Linked DNA regions of Homo sapiens. The protein of the gene in region 1 purifies or fractionates together with the protein of each later gene. This does not show direct contact. Each region holds a gene or a part of one and is shown in the gene's direction. Other genes may lie near its edges. The genes, in order: CCSER1 and PGAM4.

Evidence for each region.
Region 2: the proteins of CCSER1 (region 1) and PGAM4 purify together in Homo sapiens (affinity purification with mass spectrometry; one large-scale study listed by BioGRID and IntAct). This does not show direct contact.

The regions. Positions count from the first base shown.
Region 1 is NC_000004.12:90,126,078-90,130,497, forward strand, and holds the start of CCSER1 (serine-rich coiled-coil domain-containing protein 1), read left to right. Parts: upstream 1-1,316; 5' UTR 1,317-1,754; intron 1,755-2,248; exon of another isoform or gene 2,249-2,408; intron 2,409-2,460; exon of another isoform or gene 2,461-2,585; intron 2,586-4,420.
Region 2 is NC_000023.11:77,967,411-77,971,241, reverse strand, and holds PGAM4 (phosphoglycerate mutase 4), read left to right. Parts: upstream 1-1,603; coding exon 1,604-2,368; 3' UTR 2,369-3,293; downstream 3,294-3,831.

The DNA.
Region 1 (4,420 bases):
CCTTTTGTCTAATTTATGAAAAATGTTTCCTATAATTGTCTCCCAAAAGCAGAGTTGTCCCCATGCTGTAATATACATTGACCACTCAGATTCATTTAAAAAATACATCTTGCTTTTATTCCCAATATAACCACATTTCAGAAGTTAGATCATAGCCAGTTAGATTACACAGAGCGTGCGCACGCGCACGCGCACACACAAACACACCTTGAAAAAACTGTAGATCACTTGATTTCTGGAAGTTTTTCTCAATACCTCAGTGCACCTGATCACAACATCTTGTAATCTGGGCAGAAGGTAAGGGAGGTGATGTTAGGCGTACAAACTTAATATTGGGGATGCATTTTCTACCTAGAAATGGTCCTACATTCTACCAGAATGGGTTAAAAACAGATGCGCGCGCGCACACACACACACACACACACACAGAATTAAATGCACTACATTTGCTGTATTGCCTGCTAAAGGCATAAATATACTGGAGTGGAGATAAAGAAGGGGATGGATGGGAAAGAGTTCAGTACTTAGTGTAAACCTGAAAGGAAATGAGGCAGTGCAAGGGGAGAGAGGATCAGGGGAAAATAAATTATGTAGGCAACAGAACCATGCATCAAAAGTCTTTTCGATTTCTAAACTGGCAAATTTTCTCCAGGGGACCATCAGTCAAATGATGTCAAATTGAGCTGATTCTCTTGTAATGCCTGTATTGTGTAGGGCCTTCCTTGTAGGAACACAAGTTCCACTCTCGGACACAGTCGCAGTGCTTGCATTATCTTACAGAATTGATTGCTGCAAATGGTTCCTGGGAGGTGTGACCTGCTTAAAGGAAAGAAGCTAGGTTTCTTTTCTTGTTACTGAGGAATGAAGACACTTGTCAGGATGTGAATTGTGTGGGTGAGAAGGAAAAGCGGCGAAAGAATCTGGTAATTCCTTCCCTTACAGGAGGAAGAGAAAAAAGATAACATCGGAACCTTGGAGAGGAGAAATACAGTGCATTTATTTCCAGCATCCCCGCAGTCACTTCACGTCTCTTCAGACTTCCCCTATTCTTTAGTCTTGACCTGCCTATGCACTTGAACTCCACATAAGCACTAGGATGGACTGGGGGAAAAGGCCAGGTCAGCACGGTGGGATACTGCTTCCCCTAAAATGAAAACTCAGCAGCGGGCCAGCAGTGGGTGTGCGCGCGTCGATGCCAGAGGATGCGTGCGTGGAATCCGGCGGACGCAGTGGGCCGGGCACCGCCCTCCAAGCCGCCCCGCCCAGCCCACCACACTCCTCCTTGTATAAAGGCCGCGCTTGGGCCCGCCCTCCTCACAGCCCCGGAGCGCGGCCTGCCGGGGAGGTGGATCTCGCGCTCCCCACACAGTCACACTCCGCGCACTCACACACTTGGAAGCGCCTCCCCACGTCCCTCCCCTGCCCTCCTCTTGCTCTGCTCTTCTCTCCCTCACCACAAATAGTCGCCGACCTACTGCCAATCCGCCTCTCCTCTCTCTCTCTCTCTGTCTCAACATGACTGACTGGGAAGCGGTGGCTCGGGCAGAGCAGCTCCGCTGGCGCAGGCAGGAGGAGCAGGAGGATTATTAAATAACGCAGCTGGACTCTGTGCAACTGGGAGTGGAGAGGAGCCCAACAGCCGAGAAGGGGAGGGAGGGCAGAGGAGGGGGACCAGGAAGGACACCCCCGTGCCCCGAAGACATAAATCCCTGAGTGCCCGGGAGGAGCCTTAACAAGCGCACGGAGCCCTCAAGGTAGTAACGCCCCTGGTGCCTCAGCGCTCAGCGGGTCGCGCGTCGCGTCGCCGCTTTGCGGGGCCGGCCGCAGGCGGACGCGGGGATGACCGCTCGGCAGGTGACCGCGCCGTGTCGGGGCCGCCTGCGAGCAGCGCGCGCCCAGGCCCGGCGTGCTCGGCGCAGAGACCTGGCCTTGCGGGCGGGGTGGGAAGGAGGCGGGCGGGCTCGCTCACCACCGGCCCGCGACTCCCAGTGCGCCGCGTGGCCATTTCCTCCACGCTGCTGCGTGGTTTGCTGCCTGCGGCCGCGGCGGCCGCTCCAGGGCGATGCGGAGCGCTGGCCAAGGCGGCGAGAGTTGGCGCAGGCTTCGGGTCGCTCCCCTTCCTCGCCACTCGCGTCCCGCAGGTAGAGGCGACCGGTCAGCGCTGGCGCCCCGGGCTGCGGGTGCTGAGGCGGGGACGGCGGCGAAGAGGGGGAAGGGGAGGAGGGGGCGGGGAGCCAGGGGCTCCCGGAGGAACCGCAGTGCGGGGCCGGGACCACCTCTTGCCTCCGCCTGCTTGTCCTCTGGCGCCAGTTTCCTGGATTGGAAGCAAGACCCTGCCCAGAGGCAGCAGTAACGGCAGCGACTTAGATTGAACCACTTGCTTTGTGGTGGAGCGTCAAGGGCCCCAGGTTGTGTGCGTGTGTGTGTGTGTGTGTGTGTGCGCGCGCGCGCGCGCTCTGGACTAACCAGTGGGTTGGTTCACCTGAGCAGAAAGTCAGCCGTAAGCTGAAACCGCATGTGGCCCCCTGGCCCCTTCGACTTTTGGCTTGTGTCCCAGGGACTCGTACACACGGTGCCAGCAAGGGGTAAGGGTGACGGAGGGATTTGTGAATGGTGCTTCTGCGTGCGTGGAGGCTGAGCCTTGCTGATGTAAAGGAGGAGGTATCCAGAGTGAGAAGAAAGGCTATTTATGGCAAAGAGTTGTGAAATTTCTTGGGGTTTCCTTTTAGTGTATCCTGAACTGCTCTCTTTCTCTCTCTCTCTCTCTCCTCTCCCTGCCTCAGAATTAGAAGCAATTATGCTTCCCCTTCCTCTCGTGGGACATGGAATATGAAATGAAGTAAAAAAAAAACTCATATTTTTACAGGTAGAAAAAAATACTTCTTAGAAGTTACAGATTCTTTGCCCTTTAATGTTTTTATGTCCTCTTCTCCACCCCTCTTACCTTTTCAGGCAGTCAGTAGGACTTACAAGTCAGAAAATACCTACTTGGTTTCAACAGCTTTCATTTCTGAAATCTTTACAGTTGAATACCTTCCTATTGAAATGTAACACACATCCTCCCTTCTCTGCCCCTCAAGGACTATTAAAAATAATGTGTACACGTTTAAAGTAAAGCTGGTTTTATTAACAGCCTTAGGGAAAACGGATAAGAGGACACCTAGGTGGGGGTCAGTTATCACTGGTTCCTTCAAAACTGGTTATTAAGGGAAGACCTAAAATACTGGTAATCTAGGCTATAATATAATTTGTCTTGGTTTCTCTTTCTGTTTGCTTTATAACAGGTACATGTTCCAGATACGTAACTTGAAACTTAAAGATGCCTTGGGACAGTGCCTGTCACGGTGCTTATAAAATGAATGTTTTCTCTTAAAAGTAGCAACCTGTACTTTTATAGAACTGTGACTGGGTTTAGTAGTAGGACAGTATCCTTAATATTGCAAACTGAAATGTCTCTAAAAGCCTGCCAAGACAATGTTTTTCAAATATTGAAATTCCATGTTGTAACCACACTTTCAATAGTTTCACAGAGAAAAAAGAGAAGTTGGTCAACCTATTGTCAGAGTGATTTGTCTTCATTTAAATTAATTAGTTATTTTGATCAAAACAAACCAACTGTTGTTTGTATTGTTTTATTGCTTTCCTAAACAGTCCTGTTCTTTGAAAAACAAAGCAGAGTTAAGGATTTGATATTTTGATTTTGTTAGATTTATATTACTTTGAAATACATTTTCAACACGGAAGCATGTGCAGCTTTAAATATTAGGTTAGAACTCAGATGGAGAACCCCATTCGGAGGGTTATTACCTCAACTATCCCAAACTATTTGAACATAGATATAATAGGGAATTAAAAAATGTAATTGATGAACTGTATTATTGCAATCATTAAAAGTCCTATTTATGAGTATTTTGTTTTTTGACAGTTAAGAGAATCAGCAACTGTTTATTATTTTAAAGATACATTATTTATACCATAGAATGTTAATTTAGATAAAACAAAGTAGAAAATGAAAAATTTGTTATATTTTTACAGTAATAGTTATTCAACCCTTTATTGCATTTTATTACTCATCATAATGCTCATAATAAAGGGCCTAACGTTTGCAAAGTACTACTGTCTAGGCATTGGGGAGGAACGGGAGATTCCTTGTTCCCTGTCTTTCAGGAACTTACTTGCCATGTGGGAGGAATCTGATGCTCATGCTTGAGCGTAGAGTTAACAACCCGTAACAATAAGAGATTACATGTCTAATGAGTACTACAGGAGTTCAGAACATGACAATAACATTTCATACTGGATTTTGTTTGAGAATGCTTCGGGGGTGGGTAAGACTTGCTTGATCTTGATGTTAAAGGATAAGCAGGATTAGTACATTGTGGATAAGAAAAATATAAGGTATAAGATGCAAGTCTCCTGG
Region 2 (3,831 bases), on another chromosome or scaffold:
GCCAACAAGGTCCCACATGATTTCCCATGCCTGTCCCCCTCAAGTTTACCTGGCCTCCTCTTCTACCACTCACCAAACCCTTCTCTGTGCCAGTCATACTGGCCTCCTGGCTGTTACGCATGCAAGGATGACTCCTACTTCAAGGCCTTATTTTAGCTATTCTCTTGCTTTGGGACTTTCTTCTTCCAGATAACTGCTTGGCTAACTTCTTTGTCTCCAAGTCTTTGTTCAAATCTAACCTTAATGAGGACTATGCTGACCACCCTATTTAAAACTGCAACCTACATCCCTTCCACACAAACATACTCTGATTCCCCTTACCTCTGCTTTTTCTTTTGTTTTCATAGAACGTACCACCTTCTAACATACTCCATAACTTGCTGATTTATTCTGTTTATTGCTTATTGTCTGCCTTCCTGTGGTGGTTTTAAAATACGCCCACAAATTCTTTGCTACTCCTTCCTTCAAGAGGTGGAATTTAATCCTTTCCCCTTCGGTGTGGCCTGAACTTAATGACTTGTTTCTTGTTTTTTGTTGTTGTTGTTGTTTTGGTTTTTGTTTTTGTTTTTGTTTTTGAGACTCAATTCTGTCTCGCAGGCTGGAGTGCTGTGGCACGATCTCAGTTCACTGCAACTTCCGCCTCCCGGGTTGAAGTGATTCTCCTGCATCAGCCTCCCCAGTACCTGAGATTACGGGCGCATGCCACCACACCCGGCTAATTTTTTGTATTTTAAGTAGAGACAAGGTTTCACCATGTTGACTAGGCTGGTCTCGAACACCTGACCTCAAGTGATCCACCCGCCTCGCCCTCCCAAAGTGCTGGGATTACAGGCATGAGCCACCACACCTGGCCTAATGACTTGTTTCTAATGAATAGACTACGGTAGAAGCGACAAGGTGTGACTTCCAAGACTAGGTCATAAAAAACATTGCAAGAGGAGAAAAAAGCATTGTGTTTTCCTTGTTGTCCTCTCTCCTGAATCACGCAATCTGGGGGAAGCCACCTACCAAGTATGAAGACATACAAGCAGCCTTATGGAGAGGTTCATATGGTGAGGAACTGAGGCCTCATGTCAAAAACCAGCAAAGACCTAAGGCCTCCCGCCAATAGCCAGGTAAGTGAACCACCTTGGAAACTGCTCCTTCAGACCTAAGTTAAGCCTTTAAACTACTACATCCCCAGACACCATATTGACTACAACTTCATGAGACACCCTGAGCCAGAACTACCCATCTAAGCTGCTCCCAAATTATTGAGTCATAGGAAATGTGAGATAATAAATGTTTGTTGCTTTAAGCCACTAAATTTTGGGGTTATTTGTTACACTGCAATAATTAAGTAATACACTTCCCACTAGAATAAAAACTCCATGAAGATAGGACTCTGTTTTTTCACTGATATTAGGCTGAACCACATGAAATCATCATAGTCAAACACCGGCAATTTCATATAAATCAATCTAATATATCCCATGGAAACAGTGGTTCCTCTGGTGAGGGGAAATGAGTGGTTAGGGAATAAGGGTGGGAAAAAGAATTTTCAGCGTATAACCTTTTGTACCTTTTACTTCAAATGGTATAAAAAGTATTGCAGCCCACCGCCATGGCCGCCTACAAACTGGTGCTGATCCGGCACGGCGAGAGCACATGGAACCTGGAGAACCGCTTCAGCTGCTGGTACGACGCCGATCTGAGCCCGGCGGGCCACGAGGAGGCGAAGCGCGGCGGGCAGGCGCTACGAGATGCTGGCTATGAGTTTGACATCTGCCTCACCTCAGTGCAGAAGAGAGTGATCCGGACCCTCTGGACAGTGCTAGATGCCATTGATCAGATGTGGCTGCCAGTGGTGAGGACTTGGCGCCTCAATGAGCGGCACTATGGGGGTCTAACCGGTCTCAATAAAGCAGAAACTGCTGCAAAGCATGGTGAGGCCCAGGTGAAGATCTGGAGGCGCTCCTATGATGTCCCACCACCTCCGATGGAGCCCGACCATCCTTTCTACAGCAACATCAGTAAGGATCGCAGGTATGCAGACCTCACAGAAGATCAGCTACCCTCCTATGAGAGTCCGAAGGATACTATTGCCAGAGCTCTGCCCTTCTGGAATGAAGAAATAGTTCCCCAGATCAAGGAGGGGAAACGTGTACTGATTGCAGCCCATGGCAACAGCCTCCAGGGCATTGCCAAGCATGTGGAGGGTCTCTCTGAAGAGGCTATCATGGAGCTGAACCTGCCGACTGGTATTCCCATCGTCTATGAATTGGACAAGAACTTGAAGCCTATCAAGCCCATGCAGTTTCTGGGGGATGAAGAGACGGTGTGCAAAGCCATAGAAGCTGTGGCTGCCCAGGGCAAGGCCAAGAAGTGAAGGCCAGCGGGGAGGATACTGTCCCCAGGAGCACCCTCCCTGCTGGTCTTGTCCCTCTGCCCCTCCCACCTGCACATGTCACACTGACCACATCTGTAGACATCTTGAGTTGTAGCTGCAGATGGGGACCAGTGGCTCCCATTTTCATTTTAGCCATTTTGTCGCCTGCACCCACTCCCTTCATACAATCTAGTCAGAATAGCAGTTCTAGAGCACAGGTTCTCAGTCTAAGCTGTGGAAAAGCTCCCCTTATCCAACAGAGTTTAAAAGTAGTGACTTGGGTTTTTGTGAGTGCTTTGTTTACTAAGGACTTTGGGGAGGAACATGCTAAGCCACGACCAATGAGGAGAAGCAACAGAGCCTGTCTGTCCCCATGAGCAGAGTCTGTCCTCTGCTCTTCTGCAGTCAGGCCACTGCCTGGGGGCTCTAGTCATTCCAGTGGAAGATGAATGTAATCTGCATGGTGATGTGACAACTGTTTCCTCCTTGACCCCAGAGGATCTGGCTCTAGGTTGGGATCAATCCTGAATTTCGTTATGTGTTATATTTACTTTTATTAAAAAAGTATAGTATATATTAATAATACAAAACAATAACCCTTCTGGGGTTTCTTGTGGCGGTTGAAATAGTCCCACATGTGGTCATCAGAAAATAAGCCATTCCTCATACCAATATAGGATCAGCTCCTTGACCTCTGAGGGGCAGGAGTGCTTCCTGGTGTGTGTATTAGAATCCCTTCCTGCCTTGTTTCATGGCAGTGAAATGCCTCTTGGTCCTGTCCAAGTGTGTCTTTCACTGATTTCTGAATCATGTTCTAGTTGCTTGACCCTGCCACATGGGCCCAGTGTTCATCTGAGCATAACTGTACTAAATCCTTTTACCAGATCAGTATAATAAAGGAGTGATGTGCAATTAAAAAAAAAAAGTATTACAACATCATTTTAGTTTTGGTGAGCTCAGAGAAACTTAAGCAGAAAATGCTGAACCATGCCCGCTGCTACTAACAAAGCAAGATGATTAATGGACTCTTGTAACTTCTCCAACTAATTTCTGTGGAGCTTTGAACAATTAGACCACCCAGTCTATGGTATTATGTTATGGAAGCCTGAACTAAGACATATGCATTCTTTTTTAAATTGGGATATAATTCACATGCTATAAAATTCAGCCTTTTAACCTACAGAATGGGAGAAAACATTTTGCAATCTACCCATCTGACAAAGGTCTAATATCCAGAATCTACAAGGAACTTAAACAATTTACAAGAAAAAAACAACCCCATCAAAAAGTGGGCAAAGGATATGAATAGACATTTCTCAAAAGAAGACATTTATGCGGCCAACAAACATATGAAAAAAAGCTCAACATCACAGATCATCAGAGAAATGCAAATCAAAACCACAATGAGATACCATCTCACACCAGTCAGAATAGCAATTATTAAAAACTCAGGAAACAATAGA